Regions from separate parts of the Homo sapiens genome. Here region 1 is linked to region 2. A link means that fine-mapping ties the variant in region 2 to the expression of a gene that starts in the linked region. Tissue or cell type: stomach. Region 2 holds a variant in brackets; the other region holds the start of a gene. All regions are shown on one strand. Distances are between the middles of the regions.

Evidence for each region.
Region 1: PLCZ1 starts here. The variant in region 2 is fine-mapped to the expression of PLCZ1 in stomach (GTEx, PIP 0.95).

Annotation. Positions count from the first base shown.
Region 1 is chr12:18,733,454-18,741,801 of GRCh38, forward strand. PLCZ1 (phospholipase C zeta 1) reads right to left here and starts at 4,559. Exons shown (of 15, transcript NM_033123.4): 1 at 4,479-4,559; 2 at 3,908-4,056; 3 at 2,768-2,891. The coding sequence starts at 3,918. It overlaps CAPZA3 (capping actin protein of muscle Z-line subunit alpha 3), which reads left to right and starts at 4,666. Exons shown (of 1, transcript NM_033328.3): 1 at 4,666-5,735. The coding sequence starts at 4,816. The coding sequence ends at 5,715.
Region 2 is chr12:18,654,465-18,662,812 of GRCh38, forward strand. It overlaps a transcript of PIK3C2G not described here and a transcript of PLCZ1 not described here. Among named protein-coding and RNA genes, the nearest start is that of PLCZ1, 79 kb to the right of the region's middle. The variant C/T (reference allele first, on the strand shown) is at 4,212.

The sequences.
Region 1 (8,348 bases), 79 kb after region 2:
TGTAATCCCACTTTTCTATTTTTAGACAAGTTTTTGTTACCTGTCTTTGTTTCAATCCCTTTGGAATCATATCTAAGAAATTCTTGCCAAGCCCAATGTCAAAAAGCTTTTTTCCTATTTTCTTCTATGAGTTTCATAGTTTCAGGTCTCAAGTTTAAATCTTTAATGGATTTTGAGTTGATTTTTGCATATGGGGTAAGGTTAGAGTCCAATTTCATTTTTTACATGCGAATATCCAGTTTTCCCAATGCCATTTATTGGAGAGACTATCCTTTCCCCATTATGTATTTTAGTACCTTTGTAGAAGATCAGTTGACTATATATGAAGGGGTTTATTTCTGGGCTCTCTATTCTGTTCCATTAGTCTACATATTTGTTTTTATGCCCCTACCATACTGCCTCAATTACTGAAGTATTTTAAATACATTTGGAAACCAAAAATTGTGATGCCTCCACCTTTATATTTCTTTTTTAAGATTGGTTTTGGTTATTCAGGGTCTTTTTTGATTCCAATATGAATTTTAGGATTGTTTCTTCTGTTTCTGTGAAAACAAAACAAAAATGCCATTGGGATTTTAGTAGGGATTACATTGAATCTATAGATCACCTTGGGTAGTATGGATATATTAACATGGGATGTGTTTCTGTTTATTTGTAACTTTTAAAGTTTATTTCATCAGTGGTTTACAGTTTTGGTGTGCCAGTTTTTCACTTCCTTGGTTAAATTTATTCCTAAGCATTATATATTTTTTAATGCTAGTGTAAATGAAAATGTTTTCTTGATTTCTTTCTGGATAGTACATAGTTAATGAATAGAAATGCAACACATTTTTACATAGTAATTTTGTATCTTGCAACTTTACTGAATTTAATAGTTCTAGTAGTTGTTTTTGTTGTTGTTGTTGTTGTTGTTGTTTTGAGGACTCTCGCTCTGTTGCCCAGGCTGAAGTGCAGTGGCGCAATCTCAGCTCACTGCAACCTCTGCCTCCCAGGTTCAAGCAATTCTCGTGCCTCAGCCTCCTGAGTAGCTGGAATTACAGGCGTGCACTACCACGTCTGGCTAATTTTTGTGTTTTTAGTAGAGACGAGGTTTCAACACATTGGCCAGGCTGGCCTCGAACTCCTGACCTCAGGTGATGCACCTGCCTCAGCCTCCCAAAGTGCTGTGATTACAGGCATGAGCCACCACACCCGGCCTTGTGGTAGTTTGTTAACAAAATCTTCAGGAGTTTCTACATGTAAGATTGTGCCATCAGTGAATAGAGATAATTTTGCTTCTGCCTTTTTAATTTAATTGCCTTTTATTTTCATTTCTTGACTAATTGCTTTGGCTAGGATTTCCAGTACCATCTTGAACAGAAGTGGTGAGAGTGGGCATCCTTGCCTTTTCCCAGATCTTAGAAAAAAATCTTTTCAGTTTATTTTATATGATATTAGCTGTAAGCTTTTCATATATGGACTTTAATGTGTTAAGTTCCTTTTATACTTAATTTACTGAGAGTTATCATGAAAGGGAGTTAAATTTTGTCACATGCTTTTTCTATATTTTTGAGATAATCATGTGATTTTTATCTCCATTCTGTTAATGTGGTGTATCACATTGATTGATTTCTGTATGTTGAGCCATCCTTGCATGCCAGGGACACATATTATTTGGTCATGGAATATGATCCTTTTAAAGTGCTATAAATTTGATTTGCTATTATTTTGTTGGGGAATTTTGCATCTATGTTCATCAGGAATATTGGCCTAAAGTTTTGTTTTCTTGTGGTGCCTTTGTCCAGCTTTGGTATCCAGATGATGTTGACCTTATAAAATAAAACTGGAAGTGTTCCCTCTTCTATTTTTTAGAAGCATTTCAGAAGGATTGGTATTAATTCTTCTTTAAATCTTTGGTAGAATTCACCTGTGAAGTCATTTGGTCCTGGGCTTTTCTTCGTTGGGCAGTTTTTGATTACTGATTAAGTCTCCAAACAGGGTCTCACTATGTTACCCAGGCTGGTCTCAAACTCCTAGCCCCAAGTGATCCTCCCACCTTGGCCTCTCAAAGCATTGGGATTACAGGTACAAATCACTGCACACAGCCTCTCAGTCTCCTTTTTGTTATTGGTCTGTTTAACCTTTCTAGTTCTTCTTGGTTCAGTCTTGATGGGTTATATGGTTCTTGAAATTTCCCTTTTTTTTCTAGATTGTCCAATTTTATGGTGTATGATTGCTCTATGTGTTTTTCATTTTTGTGAGATCTGTTGTAATGTCTCCACTTTCATTTCTGATTTTATTTGACTCCTCTCTCTTTTTTCTTACTCTAAGTATTTGTCAATTTTATTTAACTTTTCAAAAAAACAAGTCTTAGTTTCCTCAATTTCTTCTAATTTTTTTCTTTTCTATTTTAGTTATTTCTGTGCTAATCTGTATTATTTCCTCCCTTCTGCTAACTTTGGGCTTATTCTCCACTCTTTTTATAAATCACTAACATCTAATACAGTTACCATTATCAGTCTGATATAATTAGACATCCAATCCTAGGTTTAATGTTAGCATTTCTGTATGCTCAGGAAATTATTCTAAACTGATATCCTGGTATTATTTCAGATTTTCTCAACAACTAATTTTACCTTCTACTGAAATGCTCTCCATCTTGATTGTAAATATAGTTAGTATAATTAATTGCTTTTCTTCTTAAGAGACTAACCTTTATATGACAATTACTGACATTGGATTAAGTTCCACCTAGGATAGGATAGGCAGGGGGTGGATGTCATCTTACCTTAAAAATCTGTTTCACATGAATATAACTGCACCGAATATCTAATTTTTCAAGTAACCTCTGAGTTTTTTCTAGGTTAATTTTTCCACCTCTGAAGTCATCCTGAATCTTTGACAAAAACCATGTAGAAGCACAAAAAAGTTAAGGAAATTCTCACAGAAAGTCATTGAATATTTAAAATTCCTAAAGAAACATTTGATTTACTGTATTATTTTTATTTTTAAAGAATATGTTTAAAGTAAATTATAGTATAATTGTATGATAAATATTTTTTAAAAAACAAAATTAAGTAGTTACTATGCTATGGTAAAGGTATGAAAGGGCATAGCACAGTAAAAATACAAAAAAAAGAATTAAAGTTAAAATTTGAGAATTGAAGTCATTACTTAGAACATACATTAAAACATTATAACAATCTATTGCCTGAAGGCATGAAGTTGGAAGGCAGCTAGACTTCAAGATCGCCTCTCACCTGACCTCTCTGTTTTAGTTCTCTCTTCCAGAAAGGTGAGCAAATTAACCCTGAATCTTAAGGAAAGTGGAAGCATTAGATGAATTCCTAATATGCCACCGAACACAGTTTCTGCTACTTAGTGTTCAATAAATAGTAACCATGACTGATAAAGTTATTATTACTACATTAGTCCAATGCCCAGCTACACACACACTCAAGACAGTACCATCAAAAAGCATCAGAAATACCATGGTGAGTGTATATTTGGTATGAAAAACGAAAAAAATTTTTAAAAGCTTACTTATCATAGATAAACTACAAAAACTAGGACACTTCCATTTGAAAAACTAAGATCGAAATGAGATAATGACAATTATCACTAAAATTATAAAAGGTATAGGTAAAAATTGTGCAAAACTACTAAGTTTCAGATTGTTAGAACGAATTAATGAGATCTCCTTAAATTTAATAGTTATGACTTAATCCAGCAAAGCTCATGTTCTTGTAAGAAAAAGATACCAGAATGCAGGGAAAGTTAGAAAAGCTCAGAACAAACAGGGAAAAGCAGTTCAACTTAAATGAAGAGGACTTAAATTCAGAACTCCTCGAAAAGAATAACAGCATCAAGTAAAGAGGATAAGTAGGAGAAAGAAGAAGAGGAGCAGAAAGAAGCTCTCAATGGATATCTCATTTCCATAGTTTCATGACCTGTAGAGCCGTTTCTCCTCACTTAGAAGTCTTTCCCCAGTAGGTGCTGTCATGGGTTCCAAATACAATTAACTCTGCCCCTTTGCAGAAAATAATTTCTTGATACTCATCAGCTGTTACCACTTTTCTAGGGAGAAAGCAGAGAACACACAGTGGTTTTTTTTGCCTTCGTTCTTTGAAGCTAGCTCACACTTAACCATAGAAACAGTATGCAAGATGTGGTACCTGCACTACCCTGCCCTTGAAACTGTTTGGCTTCTTACGTTCTGACCACCTCCAAACCCACAATATTTGAAAACACAGCTTTCCCTGATGTCTGGCATTTTTCCATGAACTGCCATTGTATCTCCTTTTATTTTTTACTACTTTGTTTAAACCCCTCAAACCTTTCATCATAATATGCTTCCAGTGGGTTTGGGCAGCTACTCTGAGAGCCTGAGTATAAATCAACACCATTGTGATTCCTGAAGTTGCAAAGTGCTGTCACTCTTGAAACTTTGGGCTGCTTCTCTAGATCGTTGACAACATATAATGCACACAGAGACACACCACTTTCGAAGAAGACTGTTCAGGAGGCTAAGTTCTTAAAATCTTCAAAAGAGGTATAGCTGGTTGGCTGGGCACCACACTGTCAGGTGACTGTCATTTTTTCCTTTTGGTCTGAATTCCCATTGTGATATCATCAGAGGTTCCACACTTCACAAGGAAAGCTTCTTATGACCTCATCAGGAGGCTCAGACCTTGCCAGACTGCCTGCTTTCATGGATAGACATAAAAACCTTCAGCTTGAATGTTAACACCTTGATGGGAAAGGTGGCTCATGGAATGTTTTCTTATCCTTTGAACACTCCTCATTTCAGAAGCTTTGCTTCTGTTGCAACCAAACATGACACTTAGCGTGCTGAGCAGGAAGGACAAGGAAAGAGTAATTCGCAGACTGTTATTACAGGCCCCTCCAGGGGAATTTGTAAATGCCTTTGATGATCTCTGTCTGCTTATCCGTGATGAAAAACTTATGCACCACCAAGGTGAGTGTGCAGGCCACCAACACTGCCAAAAATATTCTGTACCACTCTGCATCGATGGAAATCCAGTACTCTTGTCTCACCACAATGTAATGGGCGACTACCGATTTTTTGACCATCAAAGCAAACTTTCTTTCAAATATGACCTGCTTCAAAATCAGCTGAAAGACATCCAAAGTCATGGTATCATTCAGAATGAGGCAGAATACCTGAGAGTTGTTCTTCTGTGCGCCTTAAAACTGTATGTGAATGACCACTATCCAAAAGGAAATTGCAACATGCTGAGAAAAACTGTCAAAAGTAAGGAGTACTTGATAGCTTGCATTGAAGATCACAACTATGAAACAGGAGAGTGCTGGAACGGACTTTGGAAATCTAAATGGATTTTCCAAGTTAACCCATTTCTAACCCAAGTAACGGGAAGAATATTTGTGCAAGCTCACTTCTTCAGGTGTGTCAACCTTCATATTGAAATATCCAAGGACCTGAAAGAAAGCTTGGAAATAGTTAACCAAGCTCAACTGGCTCTAAGTTTTGCAAGGCTTGTGGAAGAGCAAGAGAACAAATTTCAAGCTGCAGTCTTGGAAGAATTACAGGAGTTATCCAATGAAGCCCTGAGAAAAATTCTACGAAGGGATCTTCCAGTGACCCGCACTCTTATTGACTGGCACAGGATACTCTCTGACTTGAATCTGGTGATGTATCCTAAATTAGGATATGTCATTTATTCAAGAAGTGTGTTGTGCAACTGGATAATATAAAGAATTGCTCCTGGTAACTATCTTGATTTGACTTGTTTGTGTTTCTTGGGAATGGTTATTTTCCTAAAATTGAGCAATCTGTAGAGATGTCTCTCACTTAGCCAATGCAAATTTAAATGGGAAAAGTGTAGCAAGTAATTTTACTTGGGGAATATTTATGAACAAGGCAAGAAAGTGTAAAGTAACTGTGTTTCATGGTGGTGACCATCATAAAGACCAAGACATTTGTTAGAAACTAAAATAGTTTTATAGAATCTGGGATTCCAGAAATAGTATAGAGGTGGCCAGGGTTAAGGCTGTGTGTGGGTGTGTACGTGTGTGTGTGTGTGTGTGTGTGTGTGTGTGAGAGAGAGAGAGAGAGAGAGAGAGAGACTTTTGACTGTTTCGAACTGAAAAGGTATACAAATGAATATCACTCCACAAATGATATTTTACATAACTCAATTCAGTCCTAGACCATCCACGAGATGGGGAATTTCAATAAAAGACATTAGGTTTGGATTTTCCACAAAACCAACAGATATCAAAAATCTAGCTCAGATGAAGGACTATTAGTAATTTTGGCTCCTCTTCCACTCTACTTTCTTCCCCTCAAGAATTGGGGTTACTCAAAATCCCTGGCTTGTCTGATAACTAACATGGTCTTCCAAGCCAACCAGAGAAGCCTGACTTCCCAAACTTTTACAGCCAGGCTTTTGTGAAGTCGTCACTGTAAACACTTAGAAGTACTTATTACATAACATGGCTTGTGCTAAATATTTTGCATAACATTTTTCATCACTAATCTGGTACTAGTATTATCTCCGTTGTACCTAAGAAAAACCTAAGTTCTCAAGTTGTTCACATCTTCCAGACACATAGTGTCACAGTTCACTTGTGCTGCTATAACAAAATACCATATATTGAGTAACTCACAAATAACAGGAATTTATTGGTCGCAGTTATGGAGGCTGTGAAGTCCAAGACCAAGTTGCTAGCAGATTTAGTGCCTAGTAAAGGTGTGTTTCCTCATAGATAGGACTTTCTGACTGTGACCTTACATGGTAAAAGGGGCAAAGCAGCTCTGTAGAACTTCTATTAATGGCACTAATATCGTTTATGAGGGCTCCACTCTCATGGCCAATCACCTCCCAAAGTCCTCACCTCCTAATACCATCACCTCGGGGACTCAGTTTCAACATATAAATTTTGAGGGACACAAACAATCAGACCGTACCACATAGTGACAAGTGTATCTGACTTAGTGCTCATGCTTCAGGGTACAACAGTTCCCCATGGAAGCCTATTTCATTATGAGTTATGGACTCTGATGTACATTGATTTTGCCAAGCATTCCACCTTAAAGGATATCCCAGAAGAAATGGAACTTGTGACAGCTGTTTTCTAGCCAGAGTAAATCACCTATACACTCACCCTACCACTATTCCTAGCAATGTTACTGACCACTGGTATCTGCTCTTTCAATAAATTCCCAAATGTAAAACTCTTTAACAAGATTACAGTACAGCAGTAGGTAGGCCCCATCCTCCAATTCTGATTTATCTAAGAAGCAAAGTGTTTTGTATTTTGTGTTTATGCAATTGAAAAACAGTTCTAATTCTACTTATTAACATTGGAGCATTCAGATCCCGTGCAAGAATTTCTAAACCTCAAACCTCCCCAGCTGATGATTCTTAGAGAATCTCAGGAGAATAACCTGGGATTTATCTTTAAAAATATACATTACTGGGGCCCATCCTAGGATTCTGATTTAGTAGGCTGGGAAATCTGCATTTTAGCAAGTATCAGAGGTTACACTGATGCAAAATATTTCAGGGCCACATTTTAAGAAATGTTCCCTAATCTTAAAATAGCATGTCCTGTGCTTTCTCTTTACTTAATTAAAATCATTTCCCACAAAACCATAGCCCAGTGAAGGCCATTGCTACCACTTTACTGCATTTACTATGCACAGACCAAGGACGGGCCTTGCCATGTAAAAAAGGTAAAAACAAACTTTCTAAAGAAAAGCAGAAAAGAAAGTTGCTCTCATAGCACTAAAATACAGCCATCCAGTGAAGCCTTAAGCAAAAATTTGAATTGATATTATGGTTATATGTGTAAGGGTTGATTTTCCAGATCATTGCAGATTAGGACCCAGTGGTTTGTGGGATAATTACAGAGGCATTTAGCTCCTGCTTTAACATAGGGTTTTTTTAAGTAATATTTGTTGATAATTCTGAATATAAAAGTCACATGTACAAATCGTGGAAAATGCTTAAAGCATAAAGCATTGTGGCCCATTTTCTTCTGTCTAATTTTATAGAACTGCTTTAAATATGAAGAATAGACAAAATATAAAAATTTGTATCTTGTTCTTTTTTATAACACATATATCATAAACATTGCCCCATGTCATTAAAAACTCCTTGAGCACATAATTTTAATTATTTACACAATATTCATACTGTAGATGTCCATAACAAGACAAATCATTTCTCTATTCATATATAATTTAAATTTTTAGCATTTTATCTCTGTTATTAATGATGCTATGATGAACATTTGTTTGTCCACATCATAGGTTATTTTCCTTGAGATAAATTCCTTAAAACTGCATATTAAAAAGACATGAACATATTAATAGTTAATAT
Region 2 (8,348 bases):
TCTTTCAAGTGGTTAAGAAAATGTGGTCCGATTTCAGACCGAAATCCCAGGAAAATCAGTATAAAGGATGAAAACGCATCTGTGTCAACTGCAAATGAGCAAAATTATTGCCACGGGTGTTCCCTGAGGAAAAATATTTGGAAAATTTGTGGAACTGTTATTCCAGGTAAAAGTAAAGCAAAGAGAGGACTTATTAAAGGGAAATCAGACAAGATGATTCCAGTTGAGTACTTGGTCTGGATCAGCTCTTGGTCTGATAAGATTATCTTTTACATGGGACTTTCCTACTCATAAGGATCAAGATAATCAAGACTTGTTTGAACAAGGGATAAGTGACAAACATCGAACTCACCGACTTCATCTCTCTTAATGTGGGACATTCTCAAGATAAAATTTTGAGAGTGGAAAGTTGGAAAAACAAATGTTTTGGTCAGAGAGTGAAGGGAAAGGAAAAAGAAAAAAGACACTTAGTTCTGGGAAACAATGTTATCCCTATGTGAAATAAAGAAGTAAACAGACCCATATAAGAAGCTGAATAAAAAGTTATAAACCCAGCCGAAACAGTCTTAAAAGTATACAGAAACAATAATAAAAAAAAATACCAGAGGCTTTTGATGTTTCTTGTTGAGAAAAAGACCATAACAGGAAAATACTGTTAAAGACTTGTGAAATTTAAAAGCTAAGAAGAGAAAGGGTTTTGGAGATCATACGGTGAAAATATTAATCATCACTAGACTCTAATGTATCAGAAACATCAACTGCAGCTTCAGGTAAAGAACCTGCTTCCAGTGGTCCTCCAGCTGAAGGAAAAAAATATTCCCAAAGACACAGGAGCCAACTGAAAGAGTTCCCAATGGCCAAAGCTGGGACAAGTTGGGTAAGTAACATTAAATTATAGCCTGAAGTATAAAATAGTTATCCACGAATCCACACTGCTATAAATGAATAAATAAATAAGTAGGGAGAAAGAAACAAAATCCACGCAGAATTCCTAATTATTTATGGAGATGTTGCACCTGATAAAAGGTAGAACATAGCTACCCATTCCTTACATATGAGCTATGCATAGTGACGTCATCCTGAAGAATATAATATGGAAAAGAGGATTGGGGGATTAACTTTATAGTAGAGAAACCCTGACAAATACTGCCTCAGGCAGGTAGTGAAGGTCAATATCAACAGTGGAAGTCGTGTTGGCAGTATGTACCCTTGACAAGATGTGATGAAAGTGGCACTTTACCTCTGAGGTTTTCCTCCCAAAAACTCACAGCCCCAACCTTATCATGAAAAAAAAAAAAAAAATCAGAACTGACAAATCCCAATTGACAACATTCTACCAAATACTTGACTAGTACTCCTGAAACTGTCAACATCATAAAAAGCAAAGAATGCCTGAGAAACTGTCACAGCCAAGAGGAGCTTCAGGAGACATGACTACTCTATGTAATGTGGTACCCTGGATGGGATCCTGAAACGGAAAAACTAAGTAAATTTGAATTAGGTAAAAAGTAAGTAAATTTTAATTAAAGTGGACTTTAGCTAATAACAATATATCAATATTGGTTCATCAATTGTGACAAATTCTAATATAAGTTGTTAATACTAGTAAAGGAGAGTGACACCAGCAAAAATGGTGAAGTAGGGAAGTCTAAAGTTCCATTCTTCCACAAAAACAGCAAATATGCTGGGCACAGTGGCTCACACCTGTAATCCCAGCACTTTGTGAAGTTGAGACGGAAGCATCATTTGAGCTCAGGAGTTTGAGACCAACCTGGGCAACATAGCAAGACCCTGTCTATACCAAAAAAGCATTAAAAAATATTAGCCAGGTGGCTGGGCGCAGTGGGTCACGCCTGTAATCCCAGCACTTTAGGAGGCTGAGGCGGGTGGATCACGAGCTCAGTAGTTCAAGACCAGCCTGGCCAAGATGGTCTCTACTAAAAATACAAAAATTAGCTGGGCATGGTGGCGGGCGCCTGTAATCCCAGCTACTTGGAAGGCTGAGGCAGAGAATTGCTTGAACCCAGGAGAAGGAGGTTGCAGTGAGACAAGATCACACCACTGGACTCCAGCCTGGGCGACAGAGCGAGACTCTGTCCTGAAAAAAGTAAAATAAAATAAAATAGCCAGGCATGGTTACATGCACCTGGTGTCCCAGCTACTTGGGAAGCTCAGGTGGAAGGATTGCTTGAGGCAGGAGTTCAAGTTAGCAGTGAGCTATGATCATGCCACTGCACTCCAGCCTGGGTGACAGAGCATGACCCTGTCTCAAACAACAGCAACAACAACGACAACAACAACAAAAACACAATTATACAGGCAGAAACGGTCAGAATCAACTTTATTAGAACAATTGAAACCAATCAAATTTTGCAACAACAAAATGAATGCTTAATCAAGAAAAGAGAGTTAAATTTCAGTAAGAGAGATGTGGTGTTAAAGTTACTTTGGCCCCATCTCCTGCTCCCAGCTCAACTTTTTAAGGCAGCCCTAATGACAGCAGCTCACATTTTTTGTATAGGGTCCTAATATGACAGAGAGTAAAATAGATCTCATTCTGACCACAAAGAATTGTGGTTGTTTTGACTTGGCTAGTGATCCCAAAAAAACAAGCCCAAAGGGTTTGTCTTTATTTTAACGAACTCAAATCTCTACCAGTGCTGAGGTGACTACCCAGGGAGAATTTGTTTGAAATATTTATAGGCAGATGTATTTGCCACTGCTGCTGGGGACAAGGAATAATAGAGTTGGAACAAACAATTTACTAACTGAAAAACCTGGGGGCGAAAGACTGGGAAATGAGATGTTTTGGGGAATAAGGGCTCTGAAAAGTTTCCACAAATACCTGGGATTTAGATGACCATATATGTGCCCAGGGATGGGATCATATTCAGAAAATACCTGAGAAGATCCAGAGCTCTTGTCACTGGCTGACCCTCAGGCTCTATGAAAGCACAAATGAAGACTATAGCAGAGTAGTAAGCTTACAAGCTGAAGTGTTGAAGGCATGCCTCAACATTCACATAGAGCCCATATGCAAAGGCTGAAAGATTTCTAATTTTTTGTTGTTGTTTTCGGCTCCAGTAGTTTAAAGAAATCTCTGTAAAATCATTAGCTGAACACCACTAAGCTAACCGAAAAGAGAATCTAGATACAACAATGAATACATACTTTAAAAAATCAGTTCAGAGAAGGCACTAAACAAACAACTACTATAATAAGCAGCAACAACAAACCCCCAAGGAAGAAAGTGAATCTGATTTCTAGAGTTGCCACACTATAATATTCAAAATGTTCAGTCTTCAACAAAAAATTGTGAAGTGTGCAAATAATAAGAAAGTATGGCCCATACACAGAAAAAAAAGGAAAGTAATAGAAATTATCCCTAAGGAAGCTCATCTATTGGACTTACTAGACAGACTTTAAATTAACTATTTAAATATGCTTAAAGCTCTTAAGGAAACCACATACAAAGAACTGAAGAGAACCACTAGAATAATATCACTTCAAATAGAAAACTTCAATAAAGAGACATATTATGAAGTAACCAAAAAAAAATTCTGGATTAAAAAATTATAACAACTGAAATGAAAAATTCACAAAAGAAGTTCAGCAGTACACTTGAGCAGACAGAGGGAAGAATTAGCAAACTTGAAAGTAAGTTCATTGAGATTTCCTAATCTGAGGAACAAAAGGAATAAAGAAAAATCAACAGATCCTAAGAGACCTATGAAATACCACCAAGTATATTAACATTTGCATATTAGGCATCCCAGAAGATAAGAGAGATAAAAAGATAAAAGGACAGAAAGAATATTTAAAGAAATAATGGTCCAAAACATCAATTCACTTGATGAATTACATCCAAGAGGCTCAACAAACTCTAAGTAGGATAAACATAACAAGATTCACAATGAGACACGCTATAATCAAACTGTCAAAAGCAAAAGATAAAGAATCGTAAAAGCAGCAGGAGAGAAGCAAGTCATTATGCACAAGAAATCCTCAATAAGATTAATGGCTGATTGTTACCACAGACCATGGAGGCCAGACATATGAAATATTCAAAGAGCTAAAAGAAAAGACCATCAACCAAGAGATCTATATTTGATAAAAACTATTTTTGAAAAATAAAGGAGAATTTTTTAATAGAAAATCAATATTTTAATAAATAATAGCATTAAAGTACCAGTTTTACATATATACATAAC[C/T]GACCTGTAACTTTAAGTATTTGGAATAGATGGCTTGAGTTATGCATATAAATTCTTTTAGAAGGTTTTACATATTCTATTTCACAGAGAGTAAAAAGGGAGAGAATGCTATACTTTAGCTTAGGTATTTACTACAATAGAATCTAATTCACCTTCAGAAATGTTCTAAAGTGAATTATTCTATTTGAATGGAAAAAATTTGCATTATGAAACCTGTAAAAATGAGATTTTTGTATTTTTTTTGTACATTTACCTTTCACACAAATTATCTCTTTCTATTGGTGAAGATATTATAATCATGCAAGGAATAACTCATGCTCTATGACTCAGTGCTTTTTGGAGCATGAAGCTTTGTATTGGAGAGGCAAGAGTTGCTATGGAAAGGAAACCAACATGGATAGGAAACAGTAGGGCAGAAGGGAAGACACACTAAAAGTGGGCCAAGATAGGAGGAAGGTAAAAAATAAACAGTAACCATAATTCTCATATTATAGTTGGAGCTAATATATAAAGGTACTCAAAAACTAGCCAACTTTAGGCACTAAATAACCACTTTACCTTTACCATCTTATTTAATCTCATAACAATGCAAAGAGATAAATACTATCACTAGTCCCGTACAATAGATGAGAAAACAAAAGTAGTCAGACAAAATAAGCTGCCCACAGCCATACGCTTGTAACTGGAGGATAAAGAACTCTTTGTTCCCTAAATCACTTGGGATTAAGCGGCTGACCTGATACTCTATCATCCCTGCATACTTAGAGATGATGTTTCATAAACAAGAATATTCTCTCTCTTCTCCAAAATACCATGATCAAAATCAGGAAATTACATAACTATCATTTAATGCATAGACTTCCTTCAAGTTTTATCAATTGTCTCAATAATGTATTTTATAGTGAAAGGATATCCACATTAGAATCACACATTTCATTTACGTGTCAGGCCTCTTAAGTCTCCTTTACTATGGAATAGTTCTCCATTCTTTTTTTTTTTTTTTTTACTATTATTATACTTTAAGTTTTAGGGCACATGTGCACAACGTGCAGGTTTGTTAAATATGTATACACGTGCCATATTGGTGTGCTGCACCCGTTAACTCGTTATTTAGCATTATGTATATCACCTAATGCTAAAATAAAGGAGAAATTAAGACTCTCCCAGATAAAAACTGAGACAGTTAACTGCTAGTTGACTTACTCTATAAGAAATGCTAAAGGGAGTCCTTTGGACTGAAATAAAAGAACTCTAGGCTAACTCAAATTTACATAGAGAAATAAAGAACACTGCTAAAGATAAGTAAATGTAAAAAACAAATGTTGGAGAGAATTCTGGGAAGATGGCACAGTATGAAGCACCAAAAATTTATCTCCCCTCCAACAGAACAATTACACTGACATAATCTGTCTGAGGTAAATATTTTGGAATCTTGGAGTCTACTGAAGGCTTGCTTGCACCTTCCAGGAGAGGACCTGGATAGTAAATTTCAGTACATTTAGGTCAATTTCAGCTCTTAACTCAGCAGTGGCTATCCATCCCCATTCTCCTGCGTATTTCTGGATCAGCTTGCACACAGCTTGCCGAAACCAGCAGGAGCCATAAGGATACTGTCCATTAAATATCAGGGATCTGTGTTCTGATATCTGATTGATGCTCTGATCAAAAAGGCAGAGACACAGACAAAGGTGGGAAGTTTTGTTGCAACTCCTCCTTTGTTGCAAGCCCTTCCCTCTCCAGCTGAAGTGAGATCCAGGGGGGTTTAAAGGGCCAGCGCCTCGGCACCTTTAGTTTTTCTCCTTTTCCCCTTTTGAGAGCCAGACATTAAAGACTAGGACATTAAATTAAAAGCAACCACATATATAGAGGAAATTAGAAAGTAACTGTGCATGCCCGGAGAAAGGTATAGACTCAGAAATGACCAGAAAAGACCTTAGATTTATACCTCAGGCTGGTCCTTGGCACAGAGAAGCCTATATCAATTAAAACAGAACAGATACAGCAAATTCTGGGAAAGGAGAAGAATCTGATTTCCAGAGACATGATATTATTAGATTCATATATATAGCTTTCAACAAAAAAACCACAAGGCATCCAACAAACAGGAAAGTATGTCTCATTCAAAGGAAAAAATAAACCAACAGAAACTGTCCTTCAGAAAGACCTGATGAAATATTTACTAGGCAAAGAGTTTAAAACAATTGATAGTCAAAGAAGTAAAGGAAGATGTAAAGAAAATCAAGAAAACAAAGCATGAACAAAATAAAAAGATCAATAAAAATATAGAAAACCCAAATGAAGCCAAAATGAAATTCTGGAACTGGAAAGTACAACTGAAGACAAAAATTCACTAGAAGAATTGAAGGGTATATATATGAGCAGTTAGAAGAATTGATGAACTTGAGGACAGAACAATGGAAATTACTGAGTTTGGGGAATAGCAATAAAGATTTAAGAAAAGTGAACAGAGCCTAACCAACCTGTAGGATATTATGAAGCAGACCAACATATCCATTGTAAGAGTTCTGCAAGAAGAGAAAGAGGCAAAGGGATTATTTGAAGAAATAGTACCCCAAATATTTCCAAGTGTGATGAGATACAAGAATTATAAACATCCAAGAAGTTTAACGAACTCCAAATGAGATAACTCAGAAAGACCCGTACCAAGACATTATAATCCTACTGCCAAAAATAAAAAAAAAGAGAGAGAGAGAATCTTGAAAGCAGCAAGAGAGAAGTGACACATCACATAAAAAGGCCTTTTCGTAGGATTATATATTTAAAGTGCTAAAAGAAAAACAACTGTCAACCATGAATCCTGTATCTAGCAAAACTGTCCTTCATAAATAAGGGATAAACAAGAATATAAAACAATGTTCAACATTATTAATCAGAAAAATGCAAACCAAAACCACGATGAGAGACCATCTCACACCAGTCAGAATGGCTATTATTAAAAAGTCAAAAAATAACATGCTGGTGAGGCTGTGGAGAAAAGGGGATGCTTATACACTGCTGGTGGGAAAGAAATTAGGTCAGCCATTGTGGAAAGCAGTTTGGTGATTTCTCAGAAAACTTAGAACTACCATTGACCCAGCAATCCCATTATTGGATACACACCCAAAGGAATATAAATTGTTCTACCGTTGTAGAAATATTCACAATAGCAAAGACAATAGGAATCAACCTATGTGCCCATCAACAGTAGTACTGGATTTTTTTAAATGAAGTACACATACACCATGAAATACTACACATCCATAAAAAAAGAACAAGATCATATCATTTGCAGAAACATGAATGGAGCTGGGGGCCATTATCCCATTATCCTAAGTGAACTAACGCAGGAACAGAAAACCAATACTGCGTGTTCTCCCGTATTAAGTAGGAACTAAATCTTGAGTACACATGGACACAAAAATGAGAACAATAGACACTGGGACTACTTGAAGATGGAAAGTGCAAGGAGGGTGAAGATTGAAAAACCACCCACTGGAGTTAAGTAGTTATGCTATGCTACCTAAATAGCATAGGCACTATGCTCATCACCTGGCTGATGAAATAATCTGTACATCAAACCCCTGCAACATGCAACTTACCTATGTAGCAAACCTGAACATGTACCTCTAAACATAAAGGTTTTTAAGTACAATTTTTAAAAAACACAAAATTGAGGGAGAAATTAAGAAATTAATAAATGAGGGAGAAATAAATTTTGTTTATCCCAGATAAACAAAAGCTGAGGAAATTTATGACCCTAGATCTACCCTGCAGGGAATACTAAAGGTGGCCTCACACTTTGAAATAAAAGAGCATTACACAGTTTAAAAAAAAGGCTTTGTGAAGAAGTAAAGATCCACAGTAAAGGTAAATACATGAACAATTATAAAAATTTGTATTATTGTAACTTTGGTCTGCAGCTATACATTTTGTTTTCTACATTATTTAAGATATTAATGCATTAAAAGTAATTATTGGTTCATATATCTGGACCCACAATGTGGAAAGATGTAATTTTGAAGCATCAATAACTGAAAAATGAGGTCTAGTCTGTAAAGGAGCAGAATCTCATATGTTACTGAAGTTAAGCTGTTATAAAATCAAATTAGAGAGTTATAACTTTAGCATGTTAAATGT